7 linked regions of the Homo sapiens genome follow. The protein of the gene in region 6 purifies or fractionates together with the protein of the main gene of each other region. This does not show direct contact. Each region holds a gene or a part of one and is shown on either strand. Other genes may lie near its edges. The genes, in order: GRHL1, P4HA1, SAMD13, CPVL, NDUFA13, L3MBTL3 and E2F6.

Region 1 (3,953 bases), on a different chromosome or scaffold from region 6:
GTTAGCACACTGTTTTTGTGAAGGGCTGGGCCGTAAAGGTTTTCAGCTTTTGGGGCCCCGTGGTCTCCACTGTGCTGCTCAGTGCTGCCGAACTAGTGCACACATGGCCATAAGCAGCATGTGAATGAATGAGCGTGGCTTTGTTTCAGTAAAGACTTTATTTACATGAACTGGCTTTAGACCAGATTTGGCCCAACCACTGAGTTAAAGGAGTTCAAGACATCTGTAAGAATCTGTTATTGAAAACTAAGGCTAAAGGATTTTATATTAGATTGGTGAAATTCAAAATTATTTCCATTTTAGGAATAATTCATTTATGGCCAAACATTTTGAGCATACATTTGAAAAGCAATCTATTCCTTTGGTCTTAGGTCCTTCCCATTGCCTCTGAAGAATTGGAGGGTGAAGGGTAAGATTTATGTTTTGTTTTGTTTTGTTTTAATAATGGAAATGATTTCAAACTTGTAGAAAAACTGCAAGTACAGTACAAAGAACTCATTTTTCCCTGAGCCATCAAGGATAAGTTGCCAGCCTGATGGCCCATCACTCCTGAATATCGTGGTATATATTTCCTACCAACAAGGACATCCTCCTGTGTCACAGTCAAGATTAGAATATTAACATTGCTTCATTAGCACCAATAATGTCCTTTATAGCAAAAAAGGATCCAGTTCAGGATCACACATTGTAGTTGTTTGTCATGTTTGTTGATCTTCTTCAGTCTAGAACTAAGCCACTCCTTAACTTTTCTGACCAAATATTTTTGAAGATTACAACCAGCTGTTTTGTAGACTCTTCTTAGTTTGCGTGTGTCTGCTGCTCTCTCATGGTTAGATTCCAGGCCTGGCAGGGATGTCATAGAGGCCAGGCTGGGTTCTCCGTGTGTCCTAGCAGATGGCGCTTGATGTCAGTTTATCTGTTACTAATGGTGTTCTTTGGTCACTTGATTAAGCTGGTATCTGCCAGCTTCTCCACTGCAAAGTGGCTCCTTTTATAGTAAGTGTTGTCTGGGGAGGTGCATTGTAGCTTTGTAAATATCTCATTCCCCATCAAACTTTCAGTTTACTCGTTCATTTATTGCTATCAGTATGAACTCATAGTTTCCTGTTTTATTCAATAAGCTGTGATTCATTAGTCATTTACTTTGATGCTCAGGTTGTCCCAGAATTGGGCTCTGCCTTCCTGTGCCGGGCAGCCCCCTACTCATGCTGCCTAGTGGAGGGGGGCTGACGCTACCCCTCTTTGGGCTATCAGAACCTTCTTGATGGCTCTGGGACTTTTTCAACAAGGCAAAGATTCTTTTTGTTTTTATTTCATTTTACTTTTAGAGACAGGGTCTTGCTCTGAGGCCCATGTAGGAGTGCAGGGGTGCAGTCACAGCTCACTGCAGCCTTGAGCTTCTGGGCTTAAGTGATCCTCCTGCCTCAGACTCCTGAGTAGGTGGGACTACAGGCACATGCCACCACACCCATCTAATTATTATTATTATTATTATTATTATTATTATTATTATTATTGTAGAGATCCTGGTCTCAGGCAATCCTCCCGCCTCAGCCTCCCTCTTTCTGTTATCTGCCCTCAGAAAGGTGCATCCTGATGGAGAGAGCCAAGATTTCCATGGGAAGTTCATTCCTCAGCATCCCTCTTCCCTCATCTTCCATCCATTCCCAGGGCTTAAACCGTCATACTGGGGACATTCATGCCCCACACGTTACCCATCGTGCCTCTCTTTGAAGGCGAGGCCTGCACTGCCCCTTTGATTCTTAGTGTTTCAGGCTTGAGTCCTGCCGGCACTTTCACTAGACGGCTGCTGTGTGTTAGGAACTGAGGTGGCAGAGTCTCGGAGGCTCAGCCCCTGCTCCTGAAGTGGCCATTCTGCTCCAAATCCAGCACTCCCTCCCTTCACTTTCAGTTATCTACCTCTTCTCTTGCTTGCCGTGACACCACCTGCTGGACCCTCCATGCCAGGTGCCCCTGGTAGCCAGGCGTTCGTTCGATCTGAGTTTTTCTCTCCTCAGACTCTCCTTGGTCTGTTCTCACCTTTTGGCTTCCATGATACCACCATATTTTAAACCTGTGGAATCCTGTGCTCGGATTATACCAGCCTCCTTCCCCTGGTTTTTCTGCTTGAAGGTCCTGGGGTCCCCTCCAGTCTTGACCACACACTTTGGGTACCAACACACTTTGGGTACCACACTCAGTCTCACAGACCTTTCAACTATTCCCTCTTCTCTGCCATGTAAAATTTAATTCCTTAGAGCTGAATGATCAGGACATTCACGGTAGAGTCGGCTTCCCGAAATTTCTAGATATGGCTTCCTGTGGGCCATTCTGTTTGAGCCAGGCTGGCCCTGCATTTTCCTGCTCACACTTCCTCAGTGTTTTGAAACATCATCTCCTTTGTCACTGCCTGTACAAGGTTATCTCAGATCCTGCCTCCTCCATAGAGTGTTTCCTGAAAAGAAGCACCAGACAGCCAGGCGTGGTGGATCATGCCTATAATTCCAGCACTTTGGGAGGCCAAGGTAGGAAGATCGCTTGAGCCCAGGAATTTGAGAACATCCTGGGCAACATAGGGAGAACCCATCTCTACAAAAATAAAAAAATTAGTTGGGTGTGGTGGTGTGCGCCACTTGGGAGGCTGAGGTGGAAGGATTGCTTGGGCCTGGGCGGTTGAGGCTGCAGTGAGCCGTGATCCATGATTGCACCACTGCACTCCAGCCTGAGCAACAGAATGAGACCCTGTCTCACAAAAAAAAAAAAAAACCAAAGCGCCTCATCTTCGAGAAGGCAGCTTTATCTGATGAGAGTGCAGATACCTGCAGGGAACCTGAGTGTGGTCCCATGTCTGCCTGTAAATATCCATGAGCCCTGGAGTCAGGATCTTCCTTTAGCCTGATTTTTCATCCACAAATAAGGAAGCTGGACCAGATAAAGAATGAAAGTCATTTTAAATCTAGTTCCATGACAGGCTCTAAAACACCTTAATGTTGATGCAGCTGGTTAAGTTGAATCACTAACGGCATATTTTGGATCACTGCAGCTCTGTCTTGAAAAGGGGGCCGTACGGCACAGAAGATGACTTTGCTGTCCCTCCTTCTACCAAGCTGGCCCGGATAGAAGAACCAAAGAGAGGTGTGTTCGTTTCCATTTCTTAGTGGGAGTTTTAAATCAGAAGTGAGTTCAGAATCTATCAAAAGCATAAATGGTTCAAGCACATTTTTCCCAGTTTCACTTGCTTGGGAATTCTTCCATCAGACTGACATCTAGCTTGAGCTAGGACTTAGAGCAAAGTTCAGAGAAGCTGAAACCTGTGTTCCTTAAGACAGAATTGATATTGGCTGATGCTTGTCATCCTTGATGTGAATGTGGTTTTTATTTTAGCTGGTACCGTGGTCTGTTTTCCTCTTTTGCTCATGTGAACTGTATCCTTTTTTTCCTCTCTTTTCCCTTCCTTATTCCTGGTTGGGGATTGATTAGTGCTGCTCTACGTTCGAAAGGAGTCAGAAGAAGTCTTTGATGCCCTGATGCTCAAAACCCCATCTTTGAAGGGCTTGATGGAAGCTGTAAGTAGGATCAACTCTGTAATCCCCTGTACAAAATGAAAGGACAAGTACATAGGATTTCATTGAAACACTTTATCAGATGATCCAAATCCTTTGTCAGACCTTCTGGAATCCCTGACACCTTTCTCGAGTCGTCGTGCGTCCCACATTTTATCCTCACCCAGGGGTCTTAACTCACACAGTCACTCAGTCACACCTGTTCCACTGAAGTGAATGCATCTGTGATGGCCTATGAAATGTTTAATTTTTATATACGTGGTTAAAGGGAGATTGCCATTTAGCAAGCCACTTAGAAGCTAACAAAAGTGATTTTTAATCAAGTACAATCTTAAAAACTTCATACATAAAAACAGTGGCTCCTCAGTCTACCTTTAAAACTCCCAATCC
Region 2 (3,953 bases), on a different chromosome or scaffold from region 6:
CTAAAAGGTAGTTCAAAATTATGACTAGCAATTCTGAGGCAGTTAGTGGATTCCAGCTTATTCGAAAATTATATCTTTAGTTTCCCTTTTCCTTCTTACTTAGAAATTTGGGACTGAACTTCACTCAGCCCTTAGAAGTAGGCTACATTTATAATGTATCTGTGGTAAAGGTTGCTTTTGAATTGCTTATCCCCTGTCTTCCTCATGTGATTGTTTTTCTGTCTTGGAAAAATCTTTTTCATTTCTTAAAATAAGTAGGATGAGTAAGATTTTAAACTTCATTTGACATCAAATTGAACTTAGTTCCTTTAGCTGATTAGTAAATTCTCAAAGTAAAAGCACCAGTTGCCACCTTTAAATAAATAGCTGTTTCTGTCTCCAGAACTGTCTTTTTTGAGACAGGGTTTCACTCCTTTTGCCCAGGCTGGAGTGCAATGGCATGATCTCGGCTCACTGCAACCCCCGCCTCCCGGGTTCAAGTGATTCTCCTGCCTCAGCCTCCTGAGTAGCTGGGATTGCAAGCACCCACCACCACGCCCAGCTAATTTTGTATTTTTAGTAGAGACGAGGTTTCACTATGTTGGTCAGGCTGGTCTCGAACTCCTGACCTGAGGTGATCCACCCACCTCAGTCTCCCAAAATGCTGGGATTACAGGTGTGAGCCACCAGGCCTGGCCCAGAACTGTTTTTATATAGGTGACTATATGTCCTGATTTACTTGGGGGCAGTAGTAACTTATACCTATTATTTTGGTATAATAATTTTTATTAGTGCCTCCTTTCACTCACAACAGCAACCTGGTTTGGAAGATAAATTATAATGTCTCCTATTTTTATATTACTATATTCTGATGCTTGAACAAGCATGAACTTACCCATGGACATGCTTTGTTTCTCTTCTAATAGATCCTGAACATCAGAGAGCTAATGGTAACTTAAAATATTTTGAGTATATAATGGCTAAAGAAAAAGATGTCAATAAGTCTGCTTCAGATGACCAATCTGATCAGAAAACTACACCAAAGAAAAAAGGGGTTGCTGTGGATTACCTGCCAGAGAGACAGAAGTACGAAATGCTGTGCCGTGGGGAGGGTATCAAAATGGTAAAGTGGAAAAGCCAATTGTGTGTATGTGAATGTGTGTGTGTATGTGTTTGTACACAGTTCTGGAGAGAATCAGTTATTTTATATTTAAGCCTATGTGATAAAAATCAGAATGACTGCATAAAATATTACAGTATGTCAGCTTAGGCAACATAGACCCCATTACAAAAAAATTTAAAAATTAGCTGGGCATGCTGGTGTACACTTGTAGTCTTAGCTACTCAGGAGTCTGAGGTGGGAGGATCACTTGAACCAGGAGTTCAGGGGCACAGTGAGTTATGATTACACCACTGCACTCCAGCCTGGGCTACAGAATAAGACCCTGTCTCTAAAAAACTTTTTTTTTTTTTTTTGAGATGGAGTCTCACCCTGCCACCCAGGCTAGAGTGCAGTGGCATGATCTCGGCTCACTGCAAATTCCGCCTCTTGGGTTCAAGCGATTCACCTGCCTCAGCCTCCTGAGTAGCTGGGATTACAGGTGCCCGCCACCATACCCGGCTAATTTTTGTATTTTTAGTAGAGATGGGGTTTCACCATGTTGGCCAGGCTGGTCTCAAACTCCTGACCTTGTGATCCACCTGCCTTGGTCTCCCAAAGTGGTGGGATTACAGGCGTGAGCTGCTGTGCCCAGCCTAAAAAACTTTAAAAAAAAAATTACAGTATACCATTCTCTCTCTGTGGGTGCCACATTTAATATGTTCCAATTATTAGTAAAATAGCTTTAAAATAAAGCTTGTGAATCATATACTATTACATATGTTTGGGGCAATATTACCTTTTTCATTTGATCCTTCCAGGGTGAAGGATCAAATAAGTTTAAAGGAAGTGATAGTTTTTTTTATATTTAATGCAAGAGAGATTTCAGCAGTATTTTTTTTTTTTTTTTTGAGACAGAAACCCACCCTATCACCCAGGCTGGAATGCGGTAGCGCAGTCTCGGCTCACTGCAACCTCCGCCTCCTGGGTTCAAGCAATTCTTGTGCTTCAGCCTCCCAAGTAGCTGGGACTACAGGCATTCGCCACCATGCCCGGCTAACTTTTTTGTATTTTTAGTAAAGACGGGGTTTCCTTATGTTGGCCAGGCTGGTCTCAAACTCCTGACCTCAGGTGATCCTCCCGCCTCGGCCTCCTAAAGTGCTGGGATTACAGGCGTCAGCCACCACACTCATCTGTTCAGCAGCCTTAATTAGAGACAATAACACTACTCTGTGCATCTTATGAGATACAACAGATTCATCTATACAATAATCCCTTGTAGTTTTGCTCCTAGTTAATCTTCACAAGATTGCTTAGTGAAATGCTTTAGTCTGTTTAATACTGAAAATGCAGAAAGTTTTCAACAGATTTTGTCTTTAATATTTCTTTAAAATATATCTATAAATATTACTTTGTTTATTGTATATGTATTTATAACTCAGAATTCCAGTTCTATAGATGTTAATAGATACTAGGCCAAAAGCAAAAAGAACAAAGTCTGGGGAACATTTGTTAAACAAAGTTGAACATAGGTTTTTGTTTAGCCTCAAAACTTCTCAGAACCTTTTTATGATAATGTGCATTGTGATATGATATACATTCTTTCTCAATATTAATTGATTATGGAACCTTTTGAAAAGGAATTTCATGTGGTATTAGTTTTCAGTTGAACACAGGCTTGCATAGAAGGAGTTAGTGAATTTTTGGAGTAAGTACTTTTAGGTGTAAACATTTGAAAAGTGTTTAACATTTTCTTTACTACTGGTAAACTCAAGCTGGGCTTTGCATTTCGATATTGATGACTGTTGACAGCTTAACCACTAACAGCAAAGTATACAATACGTATGGTGACACTTTCAATAGATAGGTTCATGGAGTCCTAGGAGGACATGCTTGAGCTAATGAGTAAATACAAAGATGGTGACACTGTTAGACTCATTATTTTCTTTTTTTTTTCTCTGAGACGGAGTCTCGCTCTGTTGCTCAGGCTAGAGTGCAGTGGCGCCATTTCGGCCCCTGGGTTCACGCCATTCTCCTGCCTCAGCCTCCTGAGTAGCTGGGACTACGGGCGCCTGCCACCACGCCCAGCTAATTTTTTGTATTTTTAGTAGAGATGGGGTTTCACCTTGTTAGCCAGGATGGTCTTGATCTCCTGACCTCGTGATCCGCCTGCCTCGGCCTCCCAAAGTGCTGGGATTACAGGCGTGAGCCACTGCACCTGTTCCCTCATTAAACATTTTCTTTTCTGTTTCATTACTAAATATTTTAGTATGTATCTTTTAAAGATACAAATTCAAAATAACTACAATACCATTATCACCTAAAAATTCACAAGTTTTGTAATATCAAATATCTAGTGTTCAAATTTCCGCAGTAAGCAGAAATTTTTATTGCTCTTAATAACTCTTAAGGAACAAAATAAAACTGTAGATATAAAACAAAGAGTCTGCTAATTTCCCGGTTTGTTAATGTAACACATACTCAACTTTGCCTAAGATCAAAAGAACATTCTTGCCAGGCACGATGGCTCATGCCTGTAATCTCAGCACTTTGGGAGGCCAAGGTGGGTGGATCACCTGAGGTCAGGAGTTCAAGACCAGCCTGGCCAACATGGTGAAACCCCATCTCTACTAAAAATACAAAAAGTTAGCCGAGCATGGTGGCAGGGGCCTGTAATCTCAGCTACTTGGGAGGCTGAGGCAGGAGAATTGCTTGAACCCAGGAGGCAGAGGCTGCAGTGAGCCGAGATCAAGGCATTGCAGTGCAGCCTGGGTAACAGAGCAAGACTTTGTCTAAACAAAAACAAAAACAAAAAATTCTTTTTCTCAGAATAGCTACATTCATCTCATCATTATATAAAAGACTTACTAAAAAT
Region 3 (4,528 bases), on a different chromosome or scaffold from region 6:
CTTCCAATTTGGATTTACTGGGAGAATAGTTCAGGAATTTCAGATCAAGTCCAAAAGCGTTAAGGAATCTGTTAGTGAAAGAGCTCTTTATCTACATAAAAGTCCATCATTTTGAGATCAGCACTGGTGAAAGATCCACATGCCTGACCCATGCTCAAAAAATACTGCTCAAAAATATTTAATTGGTTCCTAGATTACTATTGTTTGCCTTTTCAAGGGAGCAATGGCAAATATTTGAAATCTTTCTTGGCACTGATCTTCAAGGAAGTCAAAAATTTCTAATATAATTCCTGGAATAAGTAAAGAACAAATTTTTTGACCTTGAAATTCAGGTTCCAAATTTAGATCAAAGGTAATCTCCTAATGTCCTAAAAGATTATTTTTAAAAAGGGAAGCAGGCAGCTTTTTCCTCAGATTCTACCTGAATTCTACAGGATATTACAGCAAGTGATAACTTTTTCCAGGATCTTTCTGGGGAACCTGTGTTCTGTGCCCTGTCTTGAGTGGTTTTGTTGACCATCTTGACCTAAAAGTGTCCAAATGTTGATTGATGTTTATTTCAATGAAGAGGCAACCATGTATGTTTTCTGTGTATGTGCAGAACATTAATGGGATGAGATTATTCTCCTGGAAAAGTGGTTTAAGCCAAGCAAGGGAACTGTGAGAATGACCAGGGTAACTTAAACAAAAGATCTTGCCCAGCCTCTCTGCTCCACCTCCCAGTTTTCTGATTTGGTATTTAGGATGATGGCGGGAGAGACTATGAATTTTGGGGTGGGCATAATGTCTTTCTATTCATATGTAACTAATATAGTACCGGGTACTCATAGATTGTAAGTGTTGGTTAAATTTCTTGAATTATGCTTTTTGTCCAACTGGGATAAACAGTTAAAATTAAACCTCCCAGAACTAATTGTTTTCGTTTTGTAGAATAAGGTTTTGTTTGTTTCAGTTTGAATTTTTGCTGGCTTCATTTGGCAGGATAAATGCCAAAATAAAAGAATGTGGGCGTTTTCAGGAGATCTGGTCATCTATTTTGCATCCTTTCCGAAATATGTTACTTCCTGCATAATGAAGTAAAAGGATTTGCTGCTGGGCAGTGCTTTCCTTATTCTCACAAAGAGATTACTTAAAAGCCAGCCCTGGGAACTTTGTCCATGAATCTCTATTAGGAAAAAAAGAGTAACATGGGACTGCAGCTTCCGAGTGTTCTCTGGTTATAGCCCATAAGCACTGGCTTCTCACTCTTATTTTTCCCTCTGGGGAGAAAAGGAAATAGTTTGAAACATGACATTCATGCTCAGAACAACAGCTAAGACCTATCATGCAGCAACAATGAAGGGGAGGGAGAAAATAAGAAGCTATTGAGACAGCTTGTTTTTCTTTGTACAAGACAGGTGCAGGGAGAATTCTGCAGGTTTTGGACTCCTTACTCATTTCTTGCACTAATTGTGCTGAAGGTAGTTAGCAAAAGTGAACAGGCACACTGTAGCTTTAAAAAGTCAGCCATGAACCAGAAGGCAGTTGGTGCAGCTTGTGTGTGATTCCTAACGTCATGTTGGCTGAGAGCCAGCCTGGTTTTATTTCACTGTGTCAAATTGTACCTCCTTATTGAATTCCTTTGCCAGCCTACTTTGTGAAAGAAAACATTGGGGTTTCTTTGGCTGTTCTTGATAAGCCTATAAAAAATGATATTTTTTAGTTGCTTATAGGTAGGTTTTCTTTTTACTCTTCCACAGAAAAGAAAATAATAGTAATAATAATAAGACAATGTAGTGTGGTGTTGCAGAGTATCATTGTGAGTGTTTTGTTTTGTTTTCTGAGATGCTTAGAAAATGGTGAATGTGTAACAGTTTCCAACTGAAGTGAAATCATATTCTGTTAGCATGGAGCAGCAGCACTATCTTCCTGTCTACTCTCTAACGGTGTGTGAATGTATGCTAATATCTATATATATATATTAAATGTTGGATTTCTCTATCAATGATCTAAGTGGTTTGCAGCTGGAAGTTTGTGTGTATGTGTGTGTTTCAGGAGTGAAAATTATCCCACACTTACAGTGTTATTTGTTAATCATCTACTTCTCTAACAGTGATAAAATCTTGCGAATATACTAAATGATGCACTTGCCATGTCAGAGTAATCCCTAGAGAAGGAGTGCCGAAGTATAAAGTGATTTGAGTGGAAATGTATTTAATTTATGGCTTCAGCTGAATAAGAGCAAACACGTTTCGGGACTGTTTCTTCCTTTTTTTTTTTTTTTTTTCTTAAAGCAGTTTTGTTCGTAGCTTTTTCATTTTGCTAATTGCATATTAATTGTGGAAGGCTTTTAATTTTCCACAGCCCTCATCCTACTAAACAAAAAGACAGAGTGATGGATGCTACAATATCTCCTTAAATGTTTTGATGATTTTTCATAAATCTAATGAGTTACCTACTCTTTCTTACACATACACACACACACACACACACACACACACACACACACCAGCACCACCTTTCTGTGCTAAGGGCTATCTGGCATTTTTTGTGAGCTTCCTGCTTTACCACAGCATGGCCATCTCACAGACGGGTTTTTGAGGCTTTCGTTGAGAATGTGAGGTAGGGGAATACTTGCTGACAAAAGCTTTAAGTGTCCTTCTGCATTGCAATGAAAAAATCTAGGAGCAAGGGGGAGTGGACAAAAAAAAAACCAAACACAATAAGAAAAAACAAATCAAAGCCCATAATGGGAGGGGGGCAGGAAAAGGGGGATTGTTTTTCTCTACTTTGACTCATTTATGAGTTGCAGTGTCTTAAGTGAGAGCTAGGCACCCAGAAGAAGCTGTGCCAGTTCACACAGCACTTGTTTTCAACGAGGATTCAATTTCATTTGCAAATGCTTATTGTCAAGGCAGGGAGTGCCAGTACAGATGAAAGCACCCCAATCCGTCTCCTCCAGTTCTTTAGGTTTAATCACATCTCTCCAATCGCCGAGGGAACTGGAGATTTAAACAAACATACGTGAACTGGTGTGAAGCTGTAAAAGGGACCATTATGTTTCCGATTCAGAATATATATTCTTCTCTCACTTTCTAAGAATTAAACACAAGCTTTTCTCCCTTATTGATTAGTTGCTGAAGTAAAGGAACCCTGCAGCCTTCCCATGCTATCTGTTGACATGGAAAACAAGGAAAATGGCTCTGTCGGTGTAAAAAAGTAAGTGAAGCTGGCTTCTGAGTTCTGCTTCTGCAAACAACAGAGGGACTTAGTTTCTATTTTCGTACTTCTTGCTTATCTACTACAATACACAGTTTGGGGGTCGCCTTGGTTTGTCTACACTGGCCAGCAGCCTCCCTTCTCCCCCCTACCCCAGTTACCTTTTTCTGTATTGCATTTCTAAGACAGAGATGACTCAGACATCAAAATATATATGAAAGGTTTGTGTATCAGGCTTTGGAACAAGGATGGTTGAGGATTTCAGCCCTGCATTCTGTATATTGAAACAAAAACTCCAAGCAGAGACTCTTCCATAGACAACACAGAATGGGGGCAGAAAATAGAGTTCAAATTTTTTTTTTGAAATACAATCACCTCTAACTCTGAAAACTAAGAGCTATAGTGCAGGAAGGGAAAAAGCTTCAGTAAGAATATAGTTTAACAACTCCTCCGTCCTAATTTTATGAACTGTTTAATGAATGTGAAACATTTCTGTGCATACATGGTGTTTATTTTAAAGTCTGTTCTCACATTTGAAACTTGTGTTTATATGTGTCATGTAAGAGTTATATATTTGATTATTTTAAATGGGAAAATTCAATTGCACATGTAACATAATATTTTGATATTTATGAGTATATGAAAAATGTATATTCTCACTTAGGAGTTATAGCAAAGCAATAAGTACTTTGATTACAAGGAGAAAGTGAGTTCCAAGAGGGAGTTATCTGTTTCATTTCTTTCCATATCATTTAGTTTAAAATTGCCGTCAACTTGAGCTTTGGAGGAAACTAATTAAATATAATCCATAGAAGCTGTGATATCTAAATGAGGAAACAGTGTGCTATATGTTTATGAATAGAAGGTATATTTTGCTTCACAGCAAAGTTACATTAAAACTAACTTAATAAAATCTGTTTTTTAAAGTTCTCGGGTAATTTATATATCAGTGCCATACTGCCATGCTGATTACCATCCCTAAAGTTTGGGGTAGGTAGGTGGAGGAGAAATGAAAGAAACAGATGCTGTTTTATGTGTGAGTTAGATCAGTGTTATCCAACAGTACTTTCAACAATGATGGAAATGTTCTGTATTTGTGCTGTCTAAAATGGTAGCCACTAGCCACATGTGGCTACGAAGAATATGAAATGTGACTAGTTTAAGTAAGAAACTGAACTTTTAATTTTACTTAATTGTAATTAGTTTTAAAATTAGCAGCTTTACTGAAGTATAATCCTTGCATAATAAATTGCATGTGTGTAAAGTAAGTTTTGATATTTTTATCCCCTCTTGAAACTACTGCCACAATTAAGATGACAAATATTTCCAT
Region 4 (3,953 bases), on a different chromosome or scaffold from region 6:
ATCAACAAGCCCACTGTGAACTTCCCTCTCTTTTCTGTCATCTAAACAGGCACAACTGGGAAACCTTTACTGGCAGGTCTTTGTTTCTAGTTCCAGGGAGAATTATATTGTTTTCTAAAAAATAAAGTGGAATGAAGCTTTAAAGTGTTTGTATAACCCTGTTGAAATTCATGACACATTTGTGACCCCCTGGAACATCTGGAACACATGAAGTTAGAGGCTGCAGCTCTAGTGTGGAGGCACCCAAAATAGACAGTTCTATTCAGGGAGCCCTGAGATTAATCTTGTCACATTTAAATACGTAATTACAGCCCTGACACATTTTGTTACTCACCTCTAAAAGCTGCCAAGTGGTCTGTTATCTTTGATTTGTGAATGGTGAGTGGCTTGATTATAAACAAGAGTGGTTTATTTTTCCACACTCAAAAATATATTTATTTTTGAAGTTAATATCAGTAAAATGCTGTATGTGAATCTGCTTAAGAATATGCTTTGTTTGGGAATTTTGTGGCATGTGAAACAACTTTGTCCCTTAACAAGCTTTCTCTTCCCGCAATATTAATGACACAATTTACAATGCCATTAGGGTCATTACACATGGCAGCTCAGAAATTGGACCAGGGTCAGGTAGGTCACTGAGAGGAAGAGTAAGAACACCTGACCCCTTCAGCGCTCCTTCACCACTTGATAATTATGGACAGGGAAGGTGTGTGTGAGTGCGCATGTGCGTGAGTAAATACCAGGAGAGCGGATACCCAGGAAGTGAGGTCATGAGTAGGTATTAAACAAATTTCTACTTGTATTCATGAGTAGGTGTTAATCAAATTACCTTGATGTAAACAGAGAATTCCCTGGTTTGCCACAGAGTAGAAAAAAATTCTCAACAGTGGTTTTCAACAAGCAGTTGGAACAACAGCATCAGCATTGCTTTGGAATTGTTAGATATGCAAATTCTTAGGCCCTGCCCTGGACCTTCCGAATTGGAAAGTCTGGAGGTGATGCCTCACGATCTCTTTTAATGAGCTCAGGTATTTTTATGCACGTTCAAATTTGAGAGTCATTGTTTTGTTTTTTCGTTTGTTTTTGAGGTGGAGTCTCACTCTGTCGCCCAGGCTGGAGTGCAGTGGTGCCATCTTAGCTCACTGCAACCTCTGCCTCCCAGGTTCAAGTGATTCTCCTGCTTCAGCCTCCCCAGTAGTTGGGATTACAGGCGTGCATCACCATGCCTGGCTAATTTTTTTTTTTTTAATTTTTAGTAGAGGCAGGGTTTCGCCATGTTGGCCAGGCTCTTTCAAACTCCTGACCTCAAATGATCCGCCCACCTCAGCCTCCCAAAGTGTTGGGATTACAGGCATGAGCCACTGCACCCAGCCAAGAACCATTGTTTTAAACAACCTTTTTTAAACCAAGGTTTTTTATGAAAATGTAGGAACACCATGTTCTAGGGTAGTTTAGGTTCATATAAGCATATATACATATATATTCATTTATATTTAGAGATGGGATCTCCTTTTGTTGCCCAGGCTGGAGTGCAGTGGCTCAGTCAGCTCACTGTAGCCTCAAACTCCTGCAATCAAGCGATCCTCCTGATCTCAAGCAATCCTCCTGATATAGGCATTTTGATTCTGGATTTTCAATATAGATAAGTGTTGGAAGAATAACGAAAATGACCAATATTTACTGAAGACCATCCCAGGCCGGGCACTGTGCTAAGTATTCCAGGGACATTATTCCACTAACTCCTCACACAACTCACAACTACCCCACGAGGTAATACTTGTTTCCCAATTGTAAAGTAAAGGAACCTGAGGCTCAGTGAGGTTAAGTTCCTTGCCCAAGGTCACACAACGTGCAGTGCCTCTTGCCATGCTCCTGCACTCTGACTTCTGAGCCCAGGCTGTGAAGCACTGTGCTATCCTTTGTTTGTCCTTTGTTAGCTGCAGCACTGGTTCTGGGGGCAGGATGACCTTTAGCTCTTGGGTATTCAATTTATTGGTGTTCCGGACCATTGCTGCCAAACTCATTTCCAGTTGAAGCAGCTGGGTTTTGTCACACATATGACTTTGTTAAGTGTCCTCAGCTGAGCTGAAGCTGCACAGAAATCACTCATCAGATTCCTGCCAGGGCCAAAGATATGGATGAAAATCTGCAGGAAGAAATGTCTAGCCTGGGATTGCGGGGCGGCAAAAGTTTCCCTCTGGAGTCCTATGAAGGGGTTCTTGTCACACATGTTTACTTTCAGTTTGTGATAAAAAGTGGGCATGCTGGGTTTCCAGTTGCAAGCTTCTACACAAATGGTAGATGGGTTTCACAGTCATTGCAGTGAGGCACAAATGACCATTGATCAACTGCAGCAAAACACAAAAGTTTCACATTTGCATGTGAAAGAGTTAAGTCTGGTCCCACATCTGCAAATGGGATCTGCCTCCCTCACTGTAATATGTGAAATACAAAAATACAGAAAATTATGTTTATATCTGCAATAATTTTTTTCATCAATAAACCTCAGAGGGCTATTGAGAGGTGAATAAAAATGTTCCGTGACTAAGCTGCAAATTTCAGTTCAAAGATAAGGAATGATTGAGTAGAGGGTTTGATTAAAAACACCACACCGGTGTTTGCATCAGAAGTCAGGGTTCTAGCTAGTTATCTCACTTAACAATTGTGTGACTTGGACAAGCCACTGAATAATTCCAAATAGCTCAGTCATCTCAATGCTCATGTGAATGGTGCTCCCTGTAGTTGTTCAGTGCACAGCTTGTATAGCTGCGAGCTGCAAGGTAAATATCATCTAATAGTGTTAATCCTACTTACTGCACGTCAAGGTTGTAAGATGGAGGGTGTTGGGATATAGGGGCAGATTTTCAATATAATAAATGTACTATCCAAATATACTTTTTCTGCCTCAGTTTCCTTCAGATTGAGACAAGTAGAAGAACCCAGCCTCTTAGGAAGGGCCTTGTGAAGGTGACCTTTAATTGCTGATCGTGATTCTGCAGCTAGAAGTTACTGAAAGTGATGTCCTTTTTGCATACGTTTATTCACTTCATGCACTGGTACCTCCTGTCCATTCTCCACATATGGAACGAGACATCTCAGGCCAGGCTGACCTCTCCTGCATGTAACTTCCCAACACTCAGTGTCAGTCCTTGCCCTTTTGGCACTGAATCATGACAGCTTCCCGTTTCCCTCTACTTGGAATATTAGCTGACGCTAGAGGCTTAACGAGTACAGAGACCAGTCCCCTTTTGCTGATTGGATCTCATCATTAGAGATGTTTTAGGAATGCTTTATATCACCCAACAAGGGCTTGGGTTACGTAGGTGTCTGCATTTGTCAGAACTGGTGAGTCTACACTTAAGACTAGCGCATTTCATTGTATCTTAACTTGACTCAAAAGAAGAAAATCTGTAAACACATGTTGAACTCTGATGAATAATGTGATGCTGAAGTGTGTGGGGGAAGTGCACTACATGCCCATTTTACTTTGAGATGTGTCAAAAATATAAGATGGATTAGTGGATGGGTGTGGGATGCATAGAGGCACCCTTATGTGAGAAAGCAAGTAAAGTGAAAGTTCATGACTCAAAATCGTCACTATATGAATTGTTTTCGAATTTGCTATGTTTTAAAATGTTTTATAATCCAATATTAGGAAAAAAAAGAATGTTCTAACTCTATGCTGCTCAAAACATGACTTTCTTTCATTTCAAGTGTCAAGTTTTTTGTTTTGTTTTTTTTTTTTTTGTTTTTTGGTTTTTTTTTTTAAGAGATGGGGTCTCATTCTGTCAACCAGGCTGGAGTGCAGTGCATGTGGCATGATCCTAGCTCACTGCAGACTCCAACTCCTGGGTTCAGGTCATCTTCCTGCCTCAGTCAAGGATGTTTTTGGTTTTTTAATTTTTTTGAGAACCAAAATTTCCCCTTCATTACTGATAAAGGCTAAAATGGAA
Region 5 (3,953 bases), on a different chromosome or scaffold from region 6:
GCCTCCCGGGTTCACGCCATTCTCCTGCCTCAGCCTCCTGAGTAGCGGGGACTACAAGTGCCAGCCACCACGCCCGGCTAATTTTTTGTATTTTTAGTAGAGACAGGGTTTCACCGTGTTAGCCAGGATGGTCTCGATCTCCTGACCTCGTGATCCGCCTGCCTTGGCCTCCCAAAGTGCTAGAATTACAGGCGTGAGCCACTGCGCCCGGCAGGTCTTTGATCCTTTTGAGTTAATTTTTGTGGATGGTATAAAGAAGGAACGCATCCTCATTCTTTAGCATGTGGCTGTCTGGTTATCCCATTTGTTGAAAAGACTGTTTTCTCTCCCATTGAATTATCTTGGCACCTTTGTCCAAAATCAATTGACCATAAATGTGAGGGTTTATTTCTGGACTCTCAGTTCTGTTCCATTGATGAACATCTCTGTCCTATGCCAGTGCCACACTGTCTTGTACACACAGCTGTGGGATAAGTTTTGAAATACTGAAGTGTGAGTCTTTCAACTTTGTTCTTTTTCAAAATTGTTTTGGCTGTTCTGGTCCCTTGCATTTCCATATGAATTTCCCAACCTGCTTGTCAGTTTCTGCAACAGGAAAAGAAATGGTTGGGATTCTGATGGGGATTGCGTTTCAAATCTGTATCAGTTTGCACAGCGTTGCCATCTGCACAATGCTAAGTGCTCCAATTCTTGAACACAGGATGGGTTTTTATTTATTTTGGTCTTCTCTTAAGAATGGCCAAGGCCGGGCTCAGTGGCTCATACTGGTAGTCCCAACACTCTGGGAGGCTGAGGTGGGAGGATTGCTTGAGGCCAGGAGTTCAAGACCAGCCTGGGCAACATAGCAAGACCCTGTTTCTATGAAAAATATATTTTTCTTTTTTTTTTGTTTTTGTTTTTGGTTTTGTTTTCTGAAACAAAGTTTTCTCTGTCACCTAGGCTGGAGTACAGTGGTGCCATCTCAGCCCACTGCAACCTTGACTTCTTGGGCTTAAGTGATACTCCCACTTCAGCCACCCAAGTAGGTGGGACCACAGATACGTGCCACCACATCTAGCTAATTTAAAAATATGTATTTTGGGCCGGGCATGGTGGCTCATGCCTGTAATCCTAGCACTTTGGGAGGCCGAGGAAGATGGATTTACCTGAGGTTGGGAGTTCCAGACCAGCCTGGCCAACATGGTGAAACCTCGTCTCTACTAAAAAATACAAAAATTTAGCTGGGCACAGTGGCGTGCACCTGTAATTCCAGCTATTCAGGAAGCTGAGGCAGGAAAATCACTTGAACCTGGGAGGCGGAGGTTGCAGTGGGCTGAGATCGCACCACTGCACTTTAGCCTGGGCTACAGAGCGAGACTTTGTCTCAAAAAATAAAATAAAATACGTATTTTGTAAATGTTTCACTGTGTTGCACAGGCTAGTTGCAAACTCCTAGTCAAGTGATCCTCTCACCTCAGCCTCCCAAAATGCTGGGATTACAAGCGTGAGCCGAAAAAATTTGATCCCACCACTGCACTCCAGCCTGGACAACAGAGAGAGGCCCGGTCTCCAAAACCAAAAACAAAAAGAATGGTCCACACACCCTTTTGTGCGTGCCCCTCACCATGTTCCCCACCAGACTAGCAGTTCCTAAGGCACAGACTCTGAGGCCTGGGGCCTTGGCCCCCCTGTGGTTGGCGAGGAGGAAGAGCCCTGTGCAGGCTGCATGCAAATACAAGAGGCCCTGCATTGTTTCTGTCATCTCATACATCTCTGTTCTATGCCAGTGCCACGCTGTCTTGTACACACAGCTGTGGGATAAGTTTTGGAATTTATTTCTTCTTTGGAATTTATCTTACAGATGGGCCTGCGTATGAGTGCGCAGGTGTGAGGGTGCAGGTTCTCCCCAAGGGCCCATTTTCTGCACCAGAAGGCTGAGGGCAGCCCAGGTCTGTCCCCTGGGTTCTCTGTAGCCGTGGAAAATAATGAGATATGGCCGGGCACGGTGGCTCACGCCTGTAATGCCAGCACTTGCAGGTGGATCATGAGGTCAGGAGGTCGTAACCAGCCTGGCCAATATGGTGAAACCCTGTCTCTACTAAAAATACAAAAATTAGCCTGGCGTGGTGGTGGGCGCCTGTAGTCCCAACTACTCCGGAGGCTGAGGTGGAAGAATCGCTTGAACCCAGGAGGCAGAGGTTGCAGTGAGCCAAGATCTTGCCACTGCACCCCAGCCAGGGCAACAGAGTGAGATTCCGTCTCAAAAATAAATTAATTAAAAAAAAGAAAAGAACGAGATATGACCAGCCTGGGCAATATAGCAAGACCCCATCTGTACAAAAATTAGTTAACTGGACATGGCACACACCTGGGGTCCCAGTTACTCGGGAGGCTAAAGTGGAAGGATCACTTGAACCCAGGAGTTGGAGGCTGCATTGAGCCATGATTGCGCCCCTGCACTCCAGCCTGGGTAGCAGAGTGAGACCTTGTCTCAAAACCAAAAACCAAAAAAGGAAAAAAAAATGAACAAGGCAGCTGATGAAACCTCCCATGTGCTAGACAGGAGGCTGAGAGCTGGGAGCTGGCCCTGAGCACCCTGGGCCTCTCCAGAGATGTGCCTCTGAGCCCGGACCCAGCACACCCTCATTACCTGTAGTATGGAAATGTCTTAGCCCTGACTTGGGCTTCTAACAGGTTAAATAACCAGGTACAAATTTGAGCCAGTTTCTCATTTATCTCCGGGTCTAGCAGAGGTGCCCCCGTGAGCTCCATGCTGGAGCAGAGCTGAAGGCAGAAGAGCATGACAGGTGCAGAGCAGGGCCCGGCAGGCACAGAGTAGCCCCAGCAGGCATAGAGCAGGGCCAGTGCCCTGGAGGCCTGGAGATGGCCTTGCCTTCCACCTGCTGGTCATTTCCTGGGTGTTGACTGGAGCCTGGCCTACCTGAGCTTTTCATTCATCCCACCAAGTGCAAAGCCTGTCCAGAGAAGAGACTGGGGCTGGAAGGATCTGGAGGGTGCAGGGTGAGCCTGGGAGCCAGATCCCAGACAGCCCAGGCCTCTCTGAAGATCCCAGTGGGCCCCCAGCCTGTCAGTCAGGATTAGAGCAAGGCCCCACTGGTGCTCAGTAAATATTCATGATGGCCTAGGTCCTTCCTGGGGTGCAGGGCAGGGGGCTTCACCCTGCAGAGCCAAGAGGTAGCACGGCCACCCCTAGAGTCCGGGGGGTGGCTGGGCAGCCCCCACAGGGCACTGCCTGTCCCTGGCAGCTGTGTGCAGCCCCCGCAGGGCAGCACGCGGAACTGTGGCCCAGGTGGCCGGGAGCCACCATGGACACTGTCAGAACTGCCCTTCCACTTCAGGGCCAGCCTGCCGCCCAGGGTCCAAACAGCCTTCTAGAACACGATGGACCTGGGGCCCCCCTAGCAACCACCATCTAGACCCTCAGGCCTCCTGAGGTTGCTGCCTGGCTTGTACCTTTCAGAAAACCCCTGGCATGGGGGCAGAGGTGTCACAGTCCAAGCAGCCTCACTCCTGAGAAGCCGCCAGTGTCCCCTGATTGCAGAGTGGGCAGCGCCTGGAGCTGTGGAGGAGGGTGTCTGGGGGCGGGCTGGCCCGCTGAGCAGCGCCTCTCTTCACAGGCTACAGCATGCTGGCCATAGGGATTGGAACCCTGATCTACGGGCACTGGAGCATAATGAAGTGGAACCGTGAGCGCAGGTAGGGCCCCTGGTGGGCGTTGTCTGAAAGTGCCCCCCCGGCGAGTTGTCGGGGTCCTGTAGCATTCCGCTGTTGTCTGTGCTGGCGAGGGGTGAACGGGCCCCTTGGACTTGGCTGTGCAATCCCAGGCCCCAGAAAGTGCAGATCCAGACCCAGCACTTCCACTTCTAGGCTCTGTCCTCGAGATGTCTCCATGTCTGCAATCCCAGCACTTTGGGAGGCCAAGGTGGGAGCATTGCTTGAGCCCAGGAGTTCAA
Region 6 (3,953 bases):
ATTCAGGAGCTCTGGCCTTCCATTTCACTGCCCTTTCCACTATTCACTATTTGTTCTTTTCCAATGCCTTAACTCGAAACCACAGTGACATGCTCTGTCTGAGTGAGTCTTTCTCAGAGTGTAAAGGCATGAATGTATTCACTCAACAAAAATATACTGAATGTCTATTATATTCCAAACACTCTTCTTGGGCTTAGACATATAGCAGGGAATAAAACAAATAAAACCAAGCAAGCAAAAAACTTTTTGTGGAATTTACATTCTAGAAGTGGTAGACAGACCATAAGCCAATAAACATACTAAGTAAGCCAATTAATTAGTAAGTTAGAAAGTGACTCATGTTGGCCAGGAGCAGCGGCTCATGAGTGTAATTGCAGCACTTTGGGAGGCTGAAGTCAGTGGATCACTTGAGGTCAGGAGTTCAAGACCAGTGTGGCCAATATGGTGAAACCACATCTCTACTAAAAATACAAAAATTAGCCGGGTGTGGTGGCACGCACCTGCAGTCCCAGCTACTTGGGAGGCTGAAGCATGAGAATAGCTTGAACCTGGGAGGCAGAGGTTGCAGTGAGCTAATATTGTGCCACTACACTCCAGCCTGGGCGACAGAGTGAGGCTCTGTCTCAAAAAAAAAAGGTGATTTGTGCTATGATTAAACAGAGCTGACTAGGAAGATGAATGGGCAGCAGGAGCAGGGATGCATGTGTGGTGACAAGAGGCAATTTCAAGTAAGAAAGTCAGGGCAGGACTAATTGGCAAGCTGGCATCTGAGCAGAAGAAGTGAGCCACATGAACATCTGGAGGAAGAGTGTTCTGTGCAGAAGGAGGAGCGGGAGCAAGCCTGGACAATCAGAGGAAGAGCAAGGAGGCCAGCACGTAGACTCGTGAGGGGCAGTGTAAACAAAAAGCCAGGGGGCAAGAGAGGTAATGAGGTGTCAGACTGCAGGCCCTTGTAAGGACTTCTGCTTTTACTCTGATTGAGAGATGAAGCTATTGGAAGGACCTGAACAGAGGAGTGACATGGTTTGACTTATGTTTCAGCAGGGTAACCTTGGCTGTGCTGGGAATAGACTGTAGAGGAGCAAAAACAGAAGCAGGAAAATGAGTTTGGAGGTTACTGCACTAATCCAAGTGGGAGAGGATGGTGGCGCAGACCAGGGTGGTGGTGGCAGTAGGGTGATAAGGGTTTTACATGTTTCAAAGATACACCCAATAGGATTTTCAACAGATGAGATGTGGCATGTGTAAGAGAGAAGTCAAGGATAATTTCCAACAACAGCCTATCTGAATACTTGTCCTTTGCCTTTTAAAGATGATTTATAAGACTTCGGTTAGATTTGTACTATGGTTTACTTGTAGGACTCAAAACCCAAACCCACTGACCTTGTGAGACACTTGAGAACAAGGACTAGGTTTCATTATTTTCGAATCATCCTTCTCACAAGAGCATGACACAAAGTAACATACTCATGGTCGGAATTTAACAAATGTGCACAAGATGAATGAATGAAGGAGTAAATGAATGAATAATTCATATCGACAGAGAATATTAACTATCTCACTCCTCCAGAAAAGGATCTAGCTTTGAGCATATTTGGTAACTGAGGAACATCTCCAAAGACAATCTGCCATGAATAAAAAAAATTACTCAAAAAATAGCATCTCATTTTGAATTTAAACTTGAATCTTACTCAAACTGAATAATAGAGCAAACCTATAGGGATTATCTAGATAACAACAGAATAAAAAAACAGAAGTTATAAAAGAGATGCATTATAAATTTATTTTCAAAAATGCTTTATTATTTTCAAAGGTAATGACAACATGACATTTTCCAAGACAGACCAACAGCTCCCTATGTGGCTCTAAGTCTGCTCAGCGATACAGAATGAATTCAGGCTGGGCACGGTGGCTCACGTCTGTAATCTCAGCACTTTGGGAGGCCGAGGTGGGCAGATCACCTGAGGTCAGGAGTTCGAGACCAGCCTGGCCAACACGGTGAAACCAAGTCTCTACTAAAAATACAAAAAAAATTAGCCGAGCGTGGTGGCGGGCACCTGTAATCCCAGCTACTCAGGTGGCTGAGGCAGGAGAATCGCCTCTGCCAGGAGGCGGAGGTTGCAGTGAGCACTCTAGCCCAGGAGAGAAGAGCAAGACTCCATCTCGATTTAAAAAAAAAAAAAAAAAAAAGGAAAAAACAGAAAATGAATTGAGAGTATCAGTGAAGACACTCAGGACTTAGGGAAAGAAAATCTGAATAACTGCCAATTAAAGATCAAACAGAGAGAAAATAAAACCTTTGCACAATAAGAACATAAATCAGAAAAAGGATGTTGGAAATCAGATCCTTGTGCATTTTAACAAGCTTTCATCTAACGCATAAATTATACCTAACAGTATAACAACACTGACAACTGGTGGCTGGATTGTTAGCTGTGTCTATACTCCTGCAATGAAATGGAAAGTGTGCTGTTCTTAACAGTTGAGCTTTACACATAGGGGCAAACAAGTTGTGTATGCGTGTAACTGTAGACAGCAGATGTTGGAGAGCACCTTCTGAGATTACTCAGTCTACTTTCTGCCTTCTGGCAGGAGTAGACACAGCCAAAATCAGAGGGGTAATTGACTGCTTTGCTTGGAGGAGATGACAGGCAAGTGGCTTATTTTTAAAGGTCTCTACTGAAAAGGGTCTCCTGCTGTACGCTTACAGAATTAAAAGTTAGAAACCAGATTCCTTTTTATTCTAGTGCTCACTGTAAGTGATATCATTCTTAATCACCCCTTATATTGAAGTTTTGGAGAGGGAGTTGAAAACAACTAATAAAATAATCTTCCAAAAGTGGACTGTGATAAATATCTTATTATAAACATTATTGAGGAATGTATATGACTTAAGGGATTTTTTTAGACATAATGCTAATATTACTTATTATAAACCTCAAATGGAGTCAATCATGGTGTTGTTAGAATGACACTGGAAAATAAAATAATGGAAACTAATTTCACTTTATTAAAAAGAGAAAATGTTGCTTCTTTCTTTCTTTGGCTTCCTCTGTGCTATAAACTATATAAATGCATGCTATTAAGTTCTGTGGGTTTTCTTTTTATAAGGAGCCTAGTGTTACTGCTGTGGGGTATCATAAAATGGTACTCACAAACATTCTTATGCATCTCATCTTATACAAAGACATTTTTATACAACTGATTCATACTGCCTGTTAGTATACATCAATTTGTCAATTTCAACACACCCCATCTCTTTTTGACTCTGCCAATTCCACACATTTCACCTTCCACTGCATTTCAGTGCTTTGATCCCATTAAGTAACATATTGCAATTTAGTGGAATACTTACTTCATCTTTAAATACCTTTCCATGTTCTTCACACCCAGGTAAGCTCTGTATAAATTCTGACACCTGTCAAAAGCAATATCAAAATTCCCAGTTAAAAAACACAGTCAGAATCTAAATGCTACAGGTTCAAAACATTTAACCCATATGCATTAGTTATTTCTCTCACAATAATTTCTTCTCTTTCAGAAAAAAAAAGACTAAACGCTACCTACGCTCAATGTTCCACACCTCTTAAGCCAGTAATCCTGTATCTGGTGTCGGGCAGCAAAGAAAATAAAATATACCTCGTCTGTGCTCCATTTGGAAACTTTACTGGCAGGGATTCCTGCGACAGTTGGAAGAAGTTTGCTTTGCTGCTCCCAGCGCAAGGGCAGACATGGAATTGGGGACTTAAAGGACAGAAAGACAGCTGACCGACGCTGTGCCTGCTGGACGGTGGGTTCTTCCCGGGCACCTGGTCAATGAAAACAAATGGGAAATCACTCTCTGAAAGCAGCAAGAAAGCCCCAAATGCCGTGCATCTCCCAGATAACGAGACTGGAGGTGGGAGTGGTTAAAGCATTGGTTCCTTTCAGCATTATACTATTGAATAGGCTCT
Region 7 (3,953 bases), on a different chromosome or scaffold from region 6:
GGTTCAAGCGATTCTCCTGCCTCAGCCTCCCAAGTAGCTTTTATTACAGGTGCCCACCACCACCCCCAGCTAATTTTTTGTATTTTTAGTAGAGACGGGGATTTCACTATGTTGGCCAGGCTGGTCTTGAACTCCTGACCTTGTGATCTCCTCCCCCCACCCCGCCTCCCAAAGTCCTGGGATTACAGGCATGAGCCACCGCGCCTGGACTTATGTTTCTATCTATATGTCTGTATATGATGTCTGCCACTGAGGGGCAATGGTACTGTTGTGATTCCTCCAAGATAGAGTGTTTTTGTATTTGAAGAGGAAAAAAAAACAAATGAATGCTCTTGGAGACTGTTTTCCCACATACATCAGTATAGCCAATATGTAATGGAACTGCATTGATAGCAAAGAGTGGGGAAAACAAAGCCATCTTTTTTCATATTATGCCTAACTGAGGTGTTATTTCTGTACCAACCTGTGATCCACTGTCTAGATGAGATGGGTAGGGAGGTGTGTAGCAGAGAAGACACCCTAGAATGCATAGCTAGCGAGGCAGCCTCTTTGGGAGCCAGTAAGTAGAGTGTGTAAGTCCTGGGCCTGCTACTCTGAATTAAGAACGGGAACCTCTGCAGCAAGGCCCCTCTGAGCTTATATATAAGGATTTAGGATGTTTGTTTATGTGTGTTTCAAATCAATGTGATAAGGATGGATTTTTTTTTTTTCCATTCAAGAATCTTGCTACCGTAGCTGGCCCGTCTCATACTATTAGCAGAGGGGTTAAATGTAAAAATAGCAATGGCAGTTGGTCACACTTGTCTAATGTCTGACTTTGATAGGACTGCTTCAGAGTTTCACTGTTGGATACCATGTTTGCAAGTCACCATTGTCAGCACTGTTTGAGAGAGCTGGCCAGACCTAGTCCCTACCCCCAAGGCCAGCATTCCCAGCTCCAGTGTTGCATGCCCTAGCAGGTCTACGTGTTCAATTCTAACAACTAAATTAATTTTACAGTGGGATTCTGTCTCAATGGGAGTATTCCATATTGGGGTGATTTGTTAATAGATGCTATCATCTTGTCATAGATGATAAGGAAATCATTGTGCCGAGGATATTGTTAACACCAGTATAAACAAAGAGCTTCTTAACTGCTCACCTTGCCTTCAGGCTTCCTCATTTCCCAGTCCTTTTGCCATATTGCTGCCATACTTATATTTCTAAACCATTTACTTAATTATGTCCTAGTCTGGTTCAGAAACCTTTGGTGATTCTCTACTGGTTATGACATAAAGTCCAAACTCTTTAGCATTAGTTTTATGTGGTGCCAGCATGCCCTCCCAGCTTCAAAGTCAAGTCACTTACACACTGGCCACTTCAGTGGGTTCCCAGAAACATGCCATGCCATATACATCTTCACACCTTTGTTCATTTCCGGTACCACAATCCTGTCTTTTTTCTTCTCTCCCCACAGTTGTTTATTCAGGCAAATCTGGCTTGCTGGGCTAGGCTCAGCTGAGGGCTGCCTTCGCCATGAATCCTTCTGTGAGTTCCCTGTCTGGGTGTATCCCTAGTACTGCTGTTGATTCTCTTCTTAGAGTACCTATGAATTCACTTGCCCCAGTTTTGCTTTATGGCCAGTTTTTTCTTAGATAAGAGCTAAACCTGATGACAGCCTGTCTGGAGGCACATTAACATTGATGTTACTAGGAGTTTCTGTTCATAGGCTTTCATTTTAAGGTTTGGTTTCATTTTATTTATTTTTTACAGAAAAACAGTTTCTAAATGTTACTACCAGTTTTATGCAAACTTTCAGAGCCTCTAAATAGCTGGTAAAATGGTGAGCATTGATAATGGAGCTTCTACTAATTTCCTGGTTGTTTCAGGAATTTAAAAGAAACTTTTTATCTAACGCAAAAGTTTCTAGTTACCCACAGCATGCATTGTTTTCCATTGTTAGAAATGCTGCTGTTTTTACATTAATTATAATGGGAATGCATAGCTGCCTATGAAAGCTTGTGAGCAAATTTTGGGGAACCACGTGTACTTAATAATAGCAAGGAGTGAGCATGTGTTGGTTGAGATAGATCTTCTATCTCTACTAAGCTTTCCCAAGTCAGGGACAGTGTTGTAATGATCGTACCTGATGTATTCAGTATATTTTGTGTGTGTGTGCATGTTTTTTTGTTTTGTTTTGTTTTTTGAGACGGAGTCTTGCTGTGTTGCCCAGGCTGGAGTGCAGTGGCATGATCTTGGCTCACTGCAACCTCCACCTCCTAGATTCAAGCGATTCTCTTGCCACAGCCTCCCAAGTAGCTGGGACTACAGGTGCCTGCCACCACGCCCGGCTAATTTTTGTATTTTTAGTCGAGATGGGGTTTCACCATGTTGGCCAGGCTGGTCTCGAACTCCTCACCTCAGTGATGCACCTGCCTCGGCCTCCCAAAGTGCTGGGATTACAGGCGTGAGCCTCTGCCCAGCCAGTAATTATCATATTCATATTCCCAGACCTTTATACTATTGAGTAAAATGCTATTTGTTTGCATTGTTGTTTTAAAATCACTAAGTTAAATTTTTTATCTTTTTTTTCAGCCATCAAAAATAAGGATTAATTTAGAAGATAATGTACAATATGTGTCCATGAGAAGTAAGTTGATTCCTGAATAGGTTTTAGGTTTTGTTAGTTTGAACTTCTTATGATTAAAATGATTTGTTTAAGTGTATGAGTTGATGAGAAACTGAAATACAATTTGTTATGTGTACACTGAAATGTAAAGTTGCAAGTTTTAGTAACAACTCCTGAGGTTATGGGTTGAATCATGTGCACAAATGCCAGTTTATTCTCCATAGAACAGTCTGTATTTAAGGCTATTTTCTCAGAATTCCTCCTGGGAGAGAAATGTACTCTTTCCTTCTTGTCCCTTATCTTAGGTTAATGTTTAGGGTATCTGTTAGAGGCGATAGGATGTAAATGGCTCTAGTTCCCTCTTCTGGAAGTTTCCATGATAGACCGCCCCACCTCAGCTTCCTAATCTCAGTGGATACATAGTGCATCGATAAGTCAGTGTGAATCTTAGAAATACTCACCCTTAGTTTTGCCTCAGTGCCTGCCCCAGTCTCACCCATAGTTGGTCACTGAGTTTGGTCAGCTTCACCTTTGATGTGTTTCTTGCATCTGTCCCATACCACCAATTTATAATAATATCTAACATTTATTGAGCTCATACAGTGCCTGGCACTGCATTAAGCTCTCTGCATGGATTGTCACAATGACCTTTCAAAATATAGGTATGGATTAGAATTCTTACTTTATAAAGGCCCAGAGAGGCTGAGGTGAGTTGCTCAGAGTCAGGGTTGAATCTCTTACCTCTCTGACGCAAGAGCCCAGAGTCTTTACCACAACGTTGAATTGCTTCTTCTCGTTCAGGGTCTAACTTCCTCTGTAGCTGAAGTTGCTGGGTCTCCTTCTTAGAAGGCAGTCAGCTTCCAGGCTTTCCAACCTGGATGCTGGAAAAATCCAGGGGGATTTGTCTAATACAGAAATTGGATTATGATATCATTCAACCTAAGTTCTTCAGTGACGCTCTTTTACATGTAGAGAAAACCCTGATTCCTTGTATATTTGATTTTAAGTGTTTGCATTAAATTCATAAGCCACTTCATATTAAAAGAAACAAGGCAGTAGAGAATGGGTAGACAGAGCAGACCAGGCCCTTGTAGGCTGTTTCTTGCTTAATGCCGCAGCCTCTTCTTCCAGCATGCTGCCGCCCTCCTCCACAGCACAAGCTACACCACCTGTGATCCCCAAAGCACCCCAGGTTCTCTAAGTCTGCTTTGTCTTCTGAGGTGTGGTTTCCTCTCCCTCACTTCAGCCCCTCACCCTCTGTCACAGTGGGCAAACACCGCCCATTCGCCTTCCTGTTCCCTATGCCCAGTGTACTCCCATCAAGAGGCCTTCCCAGTTTCCCCCT

The links.
Region 1: the proteins of L3MBTL3 (region 6) and GRHL1 purify together in Homo sapiens (co-immunoprecipitation; one large-scale study listed by IntAct). This does not show direct contact.
Region 2: the proteins of L3MBTL3 (region 6) and P4HA1 purify together in Homo sapiens (affinity purification with mass spectrometry; 2 studies listed by BioGRID and IntAct, with this or other methods). This does not show direct contact.
Region 3: the proteins of L3MBTL3 (region 6) and SAMD13 purify together in Homo sapiens (affinity purification with mass spectrometry; 4 studies listed by BioGRID and IntAct, with this or other methods). This does not show direct contact.
Region 4: the proteins of L3MBTL3 (region 6) and CPVL purify together in Homo sapiens (affinity purification with mass spectrometry; one large-scale study listed by BioGRID and IntAct). This does not show direct contact.
Region 5: the proteins of L3MBTL3 (region 6) and NDUFA13 purify together in Homo sapiens (affinity purification with mass spectrometry; one large-scale study listed by BioGRID and IntAct). This does not show direct contact.
Region 7: the proteins of L3MBTL3 (region 6) and E2F6 purify together in Homo sapiens (co-immunoprecipitation; one study listed by IntAct). This does not show direct contact.

Annotation. Positions count from the first base shown.
Region 1 is NC_000002.12:9,992,836-9,996,788, forward strand, and holds part of GRHL1 (grainyhead-like protein 1 homolog), read left to right. Parts: intron 1-139; exon of another isoform or gene 140-371; coding exon 372-409; exon of another isoform or gene 410-3,043; coding exon 3,044-3,135; exon of another isoform or gene 3,136-3,480; coding exon 3,481-3,566; exon of another isoform or gene 3,567-3,592; intron 3,593-3,953. UniProt on the Homo sapiens protein: Transcription factor involved in epithelial development. Binds directly to the consensus DNA sequence 5'-AACCGGTT-3'.
Region 2 is NC_000010.11:73,048,202-73,052,154, reverse strand, and holds part of P4HA1 (prolyl 4-hydroxylase subunit alpha-1 isoform 2 precursor), read left to right. Parts: intron 1-905; coding exon 906-1,102; intron 1,103-3,953. UniProt on the Homo sapiens protein: Catalyzes the post-translational formation of 4-hydroxyproline in -Xaa-Pro-Gly- sequences in collagens and other proteins.
Region 3 is NC_000001.11:84,300,090-84,304,617, forward strand, and holds the start of SAMD13 (sterile alpha motif domain-containing protein 13), read left to right. Parts: upstream 1-1,618; 5' UTR 1,619-1,712; intron 1,713-2,561; exon of another isoform or gene 2,562-2,601; intron 2,602-3,113; coding exon of another isoform or gene 3,114-3,145; coding exon 3,146-3,198; intron 3,199-4,528.
Region 4 is NC_000007.14:28,996,344-29,000,296, reverse strand, and holds part of CPVL (probable serine carboxypeptidase CPVL isoform b precursor), read left to right. Parts: intron 1-3,953. UniProt on the Homo sapiens protein: May be involved in the digestion of phagocytosed particles in the lysosome, participation in an inflammatory protease cascade, and trimming of peptides for antigen presentation.
Region 5 is NC_000019.10:19,522,565-19,526,517, forward strand, and holds part of NDUFA13 (NADH dehydrogenase [ubiquinone] 1 alpha subcomplex subunit 13), read left to right. Parts: intron 1-3,617; coding exon 3,618-3,696; intron 3,697-3,953. UniProt on the Homo sapiens protein: Accessory subunit of the mitochondrial membrane respiratory chain NADH dehydrogenase (Complex I), that is believed not to be involved in catalysis. Complex I functions in the transfer of electrons from NADH to the respiratory chain.
Region 6 is NC_000006.12:130,133,308-130,137,260, reverse strand, and holds part of L3MBTL3 (lethal(3)malignant brain tumor-like protein 3), read right to left. Parts: intron 3,810-3,953; coding exon 3,640-3,809; intron 3,419-3,639; coding exon 3,356-3,418; intron 1-3,355. UniProt on the Homo sapiens protein: Is a negative regulator of Notch target genes expression, required for RBPJ-mediated transcriptional repression. It recruits KDM1A to Notch-responsive elements and promotes KDM1A-mediated H3K4me demethylation.
Region 7 is NC_000002.12:11,455,855-11,459,807, reverse strand, and holds part of E2F6 (transcription factor E2F6), read left to right. Parts: intron 1-1,455; exon of another isoform or gene 1,456-1,515; coding exon of another isoform or gene 1,516-1,527; intron 1,528-2,574; coding exon 2,575-2,629; intron 2,630-3,953. UniProt on the Homo sapiens protein: Inhibitor of E2F-dependent transcription. Binds DNA cooperatively with DP proteins through the E2 recognition site, 5'-TTTC[CG]CGC-3'. Has a preference for the 5'-TTTCCCGC-3' E2F recognition site.